Linked DNA regions of Homo sapiens. The protein of the gene in region 3 purifies or fractionates together with the protein of the main gene of each other region. This does not show direct contact. Each region holds a gene or a part of one and is shown on either strand. Other genes may lie near its edges.

Region 1 (3,655 bases), on a different chromosome or scaffold from region 3:
TTTTTTTTTTTGAGAGCATCTCACTCTTGCCCATGCTGGAGTAGTGGTGTGATCATGGCTCACTGCAGCTAGGACCTCCCAGGCTCAAGTGATCCTCCCAGCTCATCCTCCAAAGTATCTCGGACTACAGGCATGCACCCCCATGCCTGGCTAATTAAAAATATTTTTTTTTTGTAGAGATGGGTTCTTACTATGTTGCCCAGGCAGGTGCTGAATTCCTGAGCTGAAGTGATGCTCCTGCCTCAGCCTCCCAAAGTGCTCGGATCACAGGCGCAAGCTACTGCACGTGGCCTTGATTATATTTTATGGTAGCTGGCAGTTTGCTGTGGTATCTGTCTAACAAAAGCAAATATTTTCCATTATATGTGTTTGTGCGCTGAAATTAAAAGTGGCACTTCATGGTGGCTTCGGCAGATTTGTCAGTGCAGCAGTACGGAGACTATGGCTTTGCAACCCTGAACCCAAGCCTTCCATTGAGTAGTGGAAAGGCCTTGTACAAGTTATTTCAGCTCGCAGAGTCTTGGGTGTCCCAGTTAGTAAAATGAAGGTTGTAATAGTGCTTTCCTCATGGGACTGTTGTGGGGCATGGCACAATGTGCGTAAAGCGCCTGGCACAGTTTGGCGCATAATAGGTGCTGCTCCATTCTCCCTTCCCTGCCTTTGATTGCACCAGTTGTTTTCTTTCCATCAGTCCTCTCTATTATTTCTCCCCCATTCTAGTACAGCTAGGTATAACACATTTTTCACATTGCTAGGGAGTTAAATCAGTTAGCAGATCATTTTGTGATTGGTTAAGTTTCCTTTAAAGCATCTATGTTGTTAATCCCAGCTACTCGGGAGGCTGAGGCAGGAGAATCGCCTGAACCCGGGAGGCAGAGGTTGCAGTGAACTGAGATCACACCACTGCACTCCAGCCTGGGTGACAGAGCAAGATTCCACCTCAAAAAAAAAAAAAAAAAAAAAAAAACTATGTCATTAATGATGTTCTAAGACCAGAATAGACCAGCATATGTACTCATTTATCAGTATAGATTGAACTATGTGGAAATAGCTCTTTTAAGTGCATTTCAGTATGTATTTAATATATGTACTTTCAGAGTACTTGTCCACATATAGTATCTTCATCATTTTACCCTAAAAATCAGAAGTTTACACCAAAAGCCACACCTTAAAAGTCAGCTTCTTGACTTTAGCGACTTTTATACCTTTTTCTTCTGCTGATCCACACATGGTGTTCATGTGAGGGGCACTTGCATGCATAGATATTCGTGACACTGACTAGCAAGTGCTCTCCCACTCCTGTTTGTGCTCCGCAAGCACACTCTATTGAGTTCAGACTGGTGATGTGGTGGGGAGAGCCTTGAATGTTCTTTAATGAAGAAAGTGTATCCTTCTCAAACTTCACTTCTCAAACATCCCAAACTGCGGTTACTTTGTGTGACACACTTGATAGGTGATTTTGAAACATCAGTGTGTCATGATAGCCCATTTAAGAACCAGAGCTTTAGCCCAGCTCTTTCATGGTACAGATGAGGAAACAGAACAAGTGGGGATTAGAACACTTGTGTCCTGATCTGGTCCAGTGCTTTTCAGCCTATCGTGTGATCATCGGATGAGTTCAGCTTCTCAGGTTTTATGAATCATAAGCAGGAGAACATTGCTAAAAGTCTTAAGATTTAAAACTTAGAGATCATGTTCTTATCTGTAATTGATTATTATCTTTTGGCATGTAATTTGATAAATACAAAGCAGTTCACATCATGTACAAGAGTTTCTCACCAGATGCAGTGGCTCACACCTGTAGTCCTAGCATTTTGGGAGGCTGAGGCAGGATGATCCCTTGAGCCCAGGAGTTTGAGACCAGACTGGGCAAGATGGTGAGACCCTGTGTTTACAAAAAATAAATTTAAAACATTTAGCTATGTGTGGTGGCATGAGCTTGTAGTAGCAGCTACTCAAGAGGCTGAGGCGGGAGGATCACTTGAGCCTGGGAATTTGAGGCTGCAGTGATTTGTGACTGCCACGGCACTCCAGCCTGGGTAAGAGTGAGACCCTGACTCAAAAAAAAAAAAAGAGAGTTTCTCAAAGTCACTGTTTTTCAACCTGGGGGTCATAGTCATAGGTTGTGAATTTATTTTAGCTGAAACAGCAAGTGCCACCTGAGCCATAGTGTTTTTCAACTGCATGGGTCTGTTTTGGGCTCTCTCTTCAGTTTGTCTATCCTGTGCCAATTCCACTGATTAACTTATTGCTAAGGCTTGCTATCTGGTAAGACAAATCCTCCTACCTGCTTTTTTTCTTTCCTTGCAGGGTGTTTTGGCTCTTTCATATAAATTTTAGAATTATTTTGTCAAGGTCTGTGAAAAACCCTGTTGGTTTTTTTATTTGAATTGCATTGAATTTATGGATTATTTAGGGGAGAATTGACGTCTTTGCCATAATGATTATTCTAACCCAGAACATGCATATAACTCCATTCGTCTAGGTATTGAATATTCTTTCTATTTTTGAGACATGGTCCTGCTCTGTTTCCCAGGCTGGAGTACAGTGGCATGATCTCAGCACACTGCAACCTCCGCCTGCTGGGCTGAAGCGATCCTTTCACCTCAGCCTTTCGAGTAGCTGGGACCACAGGCATGTGCCACCAGACTCAGCTAATTTTTACAGTTTTTGTAGAGACGGGGTTTTGCCCTGTTGCCCAGGCTGGTCTTGAATTCCTGGACTCAAGTGATCTGCCTGCCTCGGCCTCCCACAGTGCTGGGATTACAGGTGTGAGCCACCGCCCCCGGCCAAGTCTTTAATATCTTTCAATCAAGTTTAAAAACATTTTGCCATAGAGGTCTCACACATCTTTTGTTAGATGTATTTCTAGGTACTTTATAGTGCTTGATGTTTATGCTATCCTATTTAAAATTACATTTTAAAGCTTGCTGGTTTATAGAAATGTAATTTTTTTATTGTAAAAAACATATAACGTAAACTTTGCTATCTTATTCTTAAGTGTATGGTTCAGTAGTGTTAAGTATAGTCACATTGTTGTGAAGCAGATCTCCAAAGTTTTCATTTGCATATATACAACTCTACCAATTAAACAGCTCTCCTTCTCCTTCCTTCCCAATCCCCTGATAACTACCATTGTAGTTTTCTGTCTCTATGAATTTGACTAGATACTTCATATAAGTGGAATCATACAGTATTTGTCTCTTTGTATATAATTGATTTTTATACATTGCTCTTATTGCTTGTCACTTTGCTAATCTTGTTTATTATTTCCAAATGATTTGTTTGTAGATGAGTTTTGGTTTACTATACATTGATATCATCTGACCATAATTAACAGTTCTCATTCTTTTCTCTATATCTGTTTCTTTTCCTTGTCTCATTGTTAAAACCCCAGACCTCCAGTACAGGGTTAAATAGAAGGCAATACTGGGAAGTTTTTTGTGTTTTTTAAAAGGAATTTTAATGTATTATTAAATTTACTAAATATAAATATATAAATATATAATAAACAATATAATAAATATATAAATATGTTATTAAAATATATTTATTGCAGATTTTAAAAATCAGGTTAAGGAAGTGCCTTTCTATTCCTAGTTTGCTAATTCTTAATTTTGACTCATGAATGGATGTTTTAATCAAATGCTATTTC
Region 2 (3,655 bases), on a different chromosome or scaffold from region 3:
AGACACATATGTTTTACCAGTTCATTAGACACGTTTTACCAGTAACAGGTAGAATAATATTCTAAACTACGGAAAAAATTAATTCTCCTCCCATCCCCACCTACTTTTTACTTTTAAAGAGACAGGGTCTTGTTCTACTACCCCCAGGGTAGAGCACAGTGGTGTGATCACAGCTTACTGCAACCTCGAACTCCCAAGTTCAAGCAATCCTCCTGCCTCGGCCTCCCAAGTAGCTGGGACTACAGGTTCATACCACCATGCCTGGATAAATTTTTTTTTTTTTTTGAGACAGACTTGCTCTGTTGCCAGGCTGGAGTGCAGCGGCGCAATCTACACTCACTGCAACCTCAGCCTCCCGGGTTCAAGTGATTCTCATGCCTCAGCCTCCCGAGCAGCTGGGATTACAGGTGTGTGACAACATGCCCGGCTAATTTTTTATATTTTTAGTAGAGATGGGGTTTTGTTATCTTGCCCAGGATGGTCTTGAACTCCAGACCTCAAGTGATCCACTGCACCCAGCCTTCCTGAATAATTTTTGTATTTTTTGTAGAGATGGGGTTTTGTCATGTTGCCCAGGCTCATCTGGAACTCCTGCGCTCAAGTGCTCGCCTCGGCCTCTCAAAGTATTGGGATTACAGCCATGAGCCACCATGCCTGGCCTACCTGTAAGATGCCTTCCCATCTTTAAGGAAGATTGTAATATATCAAAAGTGAGCAAAACATTTCTTTAGATATTTTTATATACTCAGGTGAAAGTGCTGCCGTAAGTTGACCAGACTATTCCTTTTTTTAAGAGAAGGGGTCTCACGTTGCCCAGGCTGGTCTCAAACACCTGGGCTCAAGCAATCCTCCCATCTCAGCCTCCTGAGCAGCTGGGACTACGGGTGTGTGCCACCACGTCTGATACAACTATCCTTTTTCTTCAGAAACAGTTAAGAAACTCAAACACATAAGTGAACAATATTCTGAGAAAACATCCCATGTTAGGTGGGCAGTATGACAAAAAAAATTCACATTTGATAAAAACTGGAAATGATGTATATCTAAGTTTCCTTAAGGATATTTAAGGTTATTTGCTCTAATCAAGGCATACAGATGAAAACAAACTAACAGTGTCCTCAAGAATGGAGACATAAAATCAGTGTTCACCAGAATTTCATAGCTCATTTGTTTTACAGCAGAACTGATAGGATTATTGAATTCTTTTCCTCCTAACAATGAAGACGTGACAGAACTTTGTAATTACAACCACAGCCACCTATAATTTCCCCTGCGCATTCTTTCAAACTCCTATAAGGCATTTCTGTTCATCCCTTTTGAAGATTCTTCCACATTTATGACACATTCTTTATTAATCCTGACCTTTTCTCGTATTAGCAGTGTGATGGCAGGGGCTCCATTAGCATTCTCATTGCCCTTAGTGTTGGCAATCTGTTTCAAGAACTCCACTTTTTTCTTGCTGGCCATAAAGATGATTTTGTCATCACAAAAGACCATGATAGTATCAGTTAGTTCATAACCAAAGAGCCATGTCTATGGAAAAAGACAACAGTGACAACGGTATTTACAGATACAAAAATTAATGGACTCATATAGATATACAGAAATACTTATAGACAAAAATAACATGTCTGAAATTAACTCCAAGGTAATCAGGCTGGGGAGTCTGGAGTGGATACAAATTAAGCAAGATCGGCCAAGAGTCGACAATTTATTAGAACAGGACAATGGGGTTCAATGTATTATTTTCTCTACGTTTATATGCTTGAACTTTCTATAATTAAAACCATCAAATCAGTTAAACGATTTGTGTTTATAGGAAGTATATCAATGTTTAGTGATACAGAAATGCATAAAACAAGGGACAGAGTGATACAGAACCCTGCGTTATTACCTCCTCAATTACCAGTTCCCTACCAATTATTCATTTCTCCTTCTCAAAGAACTGATATTTTACCTTCCTTTCAGGTAAGTATGGTCATTAGGATCAAATTTTGGCCAATAGGTAAAAAATGGTAGTGTGTGGAGCTTCAAGCAAGTCTTCTTAAAAAGAAAAGGTGGCCTCCTGTTTTCTTCTCTGTCTCTTTTTGCTTGGAATGTAGATGAAACACCTGGAGTTCTAGAAGCCATTCTGTACCACGTGCAAGAGGGCTATGTTCTTTGGGTGGCAGAACAGAGAACTGGAAAAAGCCTGGGTCCCTGAAGACTATACATAAGGAAAAGAATATTTTGTTTAACTCACTGTTACTTAGGTTTTTGTGTTATAGCAGCTAAATCCATACTGATATTAATACTTCTTTTTCCTTATGTCTTAAATCACTGCTAAATCCAATTGAACTTTATGTGATGGTGAAAATACCATTTATCTGCTCTGTCCAATATGGGGTAGCCACTGCTGAGTACCAGAAACACAGCTGATGGGACTGAGAAATTGAAATTTTTTAAAGTAAGAGACAGGGTCTCACTGTGTTGCCCAGGCTGGAGTGCAATGGTGCAATCTTGGCTTACTGCAACCTCTACCTCCTGGGGTCATGCCATCCTCCCATCTCAGCCTCCTGAGTAGCTGGGACTACAGGTGCACACCCCCACATCTGCTTAATTTTTTTGTATTTCTTGTAAAGACAGGGTTTTGCCATGTTGTCCAGGCTGGTCTTGAACTCCTGGGCTCAAGCAATCCACCTGCCTCGGCCTCCCAAAGTGCTGGGATTACAGGCATGAGCCACCGCAGCCAGCCAGGAATTTAAGTTTTAATGTGGCTACCATACTGAACAGTGCAGTAGATAATCCAACAACTCTAAGAGCTAAAAATTGCTGTAAATCTCTCACCTGTAAGGCAGTTGATTTGGCATAAACAATTTCTTCATCAACACCCACTGATACAACAATGGCATCAACGTTGGCATACTCATCTTCTCCTTTCTGAAAAGAGTGGGTAATCATCACTTAATTTTTCACACTAGCAAAACAGGAATACAGCCTTCAATATTTATCTAGGACAGGCATAATTTTCTCCTGATAGAAATTTCAAGTTTAAGGTACATGCCTGTTTGGCAGTCTTACGGCTATTCTATTTTTTGTTTTTACAGTACTTGCTAATTGTTGATAAATATCAAGAGAAATTTTTCCTTAGCCCCCAGATCTATGTTTCATAGTTCAGGAACACAGATCAGTGACAAACGTCCTGTGTAATTCAAAGAAATATTTTATTTTTTAAAATTTTATTACTTATTTTTGAGATGGAGTTTGACTCTTGTTGCCCAGGCTGGAATGCAATGGTGCAATCTCGGCTCACTGCAACCTCCGCCTCCTGGGTTCAAGCAATTCTCCTGCCTCAGCCTCCCCAGTAGCTAGGATTACAGGTGCCCACCACCACACCTGGCTAATTTTTTTATTTTCAGTAGAGACAGGGTTTCACTATGTGGGTCAGGCTGGTCTCGAACTCCTAACTTCAGGTGATCCACCTGCTTCGGTCTCCCAAAGTGCTGGAATTACAGGCATAAGCCACCATGCCTGGGCCAAACTAATTTTTTATATTCCAAAATCATCTTGCACTCTCAAAGATAAGCCACCTTCATCTTAGAATCTTTCAAGGAGTCATAATTTATGCAGAAATCTACATATGCCTTCTTTTTTGGTTCAGCCACAGAAATTTTAA
Region 3 (3,655 bases):
TTGCTTACGTATTTTCTTGAAAAAGTCCTCAGACTTAAAAGCTATTCATTTAACTTCGAATTACAGATGTACTAGATAGCAGTAATATATACTTACCATTTCAGCATCTTCTTCTAACTTTTGTTTTGCTTCTTGCTCCCTACAAATAAAAATATAATTATAACATACTTCTATTTACTATATAAGAAAATTAAGTCCTAATAAAGTTAACCAATCATGATCACTAAACTTACTTAACCAAAGCCAGAAGTCCTTAGGTTTTTTTGATCGTCCAATGCTAGACTGCAATGCAATTTGGCCCTGAGATTGTCAAGGCAGCTTAAGATCTCAGTGTTTCACTAGCAAAGAGAAAGGTCTACTGCCACTATTTCAGAGCTCACCAGCTATATTTCTGTCAGAGCTTTAAGGAATTCAAATTATGTCGTGATTAGTTCAACATACTTACTGTTTAGCTCTTAATTTAGCTTCCACTTTATTTTGTTTTCTTTCTTCATTTTTTTTGGCAAAGTAATCGTCCCTAAAGAACACACAGTACAGAGGCTAAGTTCACGAGAACAAAGTTAAGACTGCAGATTATTTTGAATAACTTAAGACATGGCACAGCAATGAATGTTGCACACGCTTACTATCAACATAATCATCAACTAAAAATTCAAAATATGCCAAGGAATTTACTCTCTCATGTTTTTTTATATAACAGCTTTACTGAGGAAAAAATCCATGTGCCACAAAATTCACTCTTTTAAAGTGTACCTTGAATGTTTTTTAGTATATTCAGTTGTACAACCATCACTACTAATTTCAGAACATTTTCATGACCCCAAAAAGAAACCCCCTATCCATTAGCAATTTCATGTTGATTTCCATTTATCATTCATGTATAGGGAAAAAAGTGTATCAGAAGTCATGCAAATAATATTGCAGTTTTCTATAGTGTTAATTCCACAAAAGGAGAAAATTCTAAAATCCCCAAGATCCAACAATAACATATGAAAATCATGTTAAATAATTTTTGAGGATTTAACACTGATACTATGACCCATCACAGTGCATCTCTAAGTCAATCAAGTTTAGTATATACCATTTAGAAGACTAATGCACAGTCTTCTAAAGTAGGGAACTATGGCCCTACACCTAATTTTATCATGAAAATGCTCTGGTTCATCCCCATTTTTAGACACTTAGACAGACACACATTCACAAAGAATGTGACCCAAATCTCAAATCCTTTGTACTGTAAAAAAAAAAAAAAAAAAAAAAAGACATATAGGCTATGAAAAATAAGATGAAAACTGCATTGATATATTTTCCAAACACACAAAAGACCAAATTTTAATACCCAGCCTGATCAAAAGTTTTAGATGCAAAATCAGTATTAAAACATAACCTCCTTTAATAATGGCTAACAGTGGCTGGGCGCAGTGGCTCACGCCTGTAGTCCCAACACTTTGGGAGGCCAAGGCAGGCGGATGATCTGAAGTCAGGAGTTCAAGACCAGCCTGGCCAACATGGTGAAACTCCATCTCTACTAAAAATACAAAAATTAGGTGGACGAGGTGGCACGCGCCTGTAGTCCCAGCTACTCAGGAGGCTGAGGCAGGAGAATCGCTTGAACCCAGGAAGCAGAGGTTGCAGGGAGCCAAGATCACACCACTGCACTCCAGCCTGGGTGACAAGAGTGAAACTTGTCTCAAAAAAAAAAGAAAAAGAAAAAAAAATTGTTAACAGTGAAAAGGTACTAATGAACACTTTTCTTATAGTCTCAAAAGACTATAGTTCTCACTGAACAAATATCAAGCATTTCTCAAAGGTCATCTAAAGATACTAAGAATATTGGCCTTTCAGGGGATACTACTTCCATGCTCCTTACCCTAGTGTGTGTCCATATAAGTAAAAGGCCAGGAGAAACATCAGCAAAAAGACTTACTTGAAAAGTATTAGCAGGTCTGTTTCTTTGTACTTCTGGCCAGGGGTCTCTACAAATTTCTTAGCAGATTCAATGCTATCAAACACAACAAAAATTGATCCCTGTAAAAAGGAAGGAAAATATTTTTTTAAGTTATGTCCCATATATTTTAAAACTAGAAAAAGTCTGTATTATCATACCTTAAATGCTTTATGCAATGTTCTTCTCATCTGAATATTTAGTACTTGACCTTTATCTTCTAACCATTCTTTTATGTCATCAAGAGTTGCATCAGTTGGGAAGCCTTTCTGTGAAGAGTGGGAAGAAATGTACAAATAACAAATAATGACTTCTCAGATAAACAATTGGAGAGAATTTGATTCATTTTTTCTTGAAATGAACCCAGGATATACCTATCTATCTCTATTTCTCTTTGTTAATCACTTAACAGCCTTGTTTAGGAGCCACTACTCTCCAGTACAATAAAAGTGATTCATCTGGTATTTGCTTCAAAATAATTCAGTTGAAGCAGAAATAAAACAAGATGATTTGCATGTTCTGTTATTAACTACTAAAGCTGGTGATGGTACATTATTGAATCTATTTATATATGTATCTGAAATTTTCCGTAATAAAAAACTATTTAAAAATACACTAAAGAAAACTGCAATCAAGTTTAGCTGCTGATAAATAAGAACAGCTAATAGGCAATAGGTGCTTAGAATATGTCAAAGATTTCATCCAATGGTATATATATTTTTTTTCATTTAATTCTCACAACAGTTCTACAAGGTAGAAAATATCCACGTTTATGAAGATAAAACTTAGGACTAGGCATGGTGGCTCACACCTGTAATCCCAGCACTTTGGGAGGTCAAGGTGATTGGATCACTTGAGCCCAGGAGATTGACACCAGCCTGGGCAACACAGGAAGACCCGTCTCTACAAAAAATTTTTTGCCAGGCATGGTAGCATGCACCTGTAGTCCCAGCTACTCAGGAGGCTGAGGTGGGAGGATCACTTGAGCCCAGGAGGTCAAGACTGCAGTGGGCCATGATCACACCACTGCACTCCAACGTGAGCAACAGGATGAGACTGTCTCAAAACAAAACAAAACAAAAGAAACTTAGGTTAAGAATATTACGAAAGGACATACAGTAATTAGTGAGGCTGTGATTCCTGAGCCCTTATTCTTCCGTACTTTACTTTCTAAATAAATGTAAGATATTTAAATGCATTACAGGCCCACTTACAATATAAACAGATCTGTTTTTTACATCATTTTTATACTCATCAGTCACTTCAGGTAGGGGTTTGCTTGGAGACCTTCTGATTTTAGTTTTATCTTCACTGATTTCCATGAGTTCTGCCTTGGATTTGCTCAATGCTTCCACAATTACATTAAAGTCTGTTGTTAGACGGTTCAACCTGAAGAGTACATATAAAAACATAAGACTCAGCAGTAGCACTCATTGTAAACAGAAAACCTAAAGATTATTTTTAAAAGCTTGTTACCTGTTGAATTTTATCATTATCTCCAAAGGTACCCAGCCTTCATCCAGTTTTATCTGTTCCTTTAGAAACTTGTCCCGTGGCAAATTGAAGTCGCCAAAATAATACTGTGAGATAATTACAATGTATTTCAGAACACTGTATAATATGGACTCCAATCCTGACATTACTCTACAGTACCAAGTTCTGTTATTTAAAAATACATAAGTTACAAAAGGCAAAACACTTTCCCCAAAT

What was found.
Region 1: the proteins of SSB (region 3) and SART3 purify together in Homo sapiens (affinity purification with mass spectrometry; 2 studies listed by BioGRID and IntAct, with this or other methods). This does not show direct contact.
Region 2: the proteins of SSB (region 3) and SUPT16H purify together in Homo sapiens (affinity purification with mass spectrometry; 2 studies listed by BioGRID and IntAct, with this or other methods). This does not show direct contact.

Annotation. Positions count from the first base shown.
Region 1 is NC_000012.12:108,554,519-108,558,173, reverse strand, and holds part of SART3 (spliceosome associated factor 3, U4/U6 recycling protein), read left to right. Parts: intron 1-3,655. UniProt on the Homo sapiens protein: U6 snRNP-binding protein that functions as a recycling factor of the splicing machinery. Promotes the initial reassembly of U4 and U6 snRNPs following their ejection from the spliceosome during its maturation.
Region 2 is NC_000014.9:21,370,512-21,374,166, forward strand, and holds part of SUPT16H (FACT complex subunit SPT16), read right to left. Parts: intron 2,920-3,655; coding exon 2,827-2,919; intron 2,186-2,826; exon of another isoform or gene 1,958-2,185; intron 1,534-1,957; coding exon 1,363-1,533; intron 1-1,362. UniProt on the Homo sapiens protein: Component of the FACT complex, a general chromatin factor that acts to reorganize nucleosomes. The FACT complex is involved in multiple processes that require DNA as a template such as mRNA elongation, DNA replication and DNA repair.
Region 3 is NC_000002.12:169,805,344-169,808,998, reverse strand, and holds part of SSB (lupus La protein), read right to left. Parts: intron 3,526-3,655; coding exon 3,422-3,525; intron 3,335-3,421; coding exon 3,160-3,334; intron 2,215-3,159; coding exon 2,107-2,214; intron 2,029-2,106; coding exon 1,928-2,028; intron 518-1,927; coding exon 446-517; intron 140-445; coding exon 97-139; intron 1-96. UniProt on the Homo sapiens protein: Binds to the 3' poly(U) terminus of nascent RNA polymerase III transcripts, protecting them from exonuclease digestion and facilitating their folding and maturation.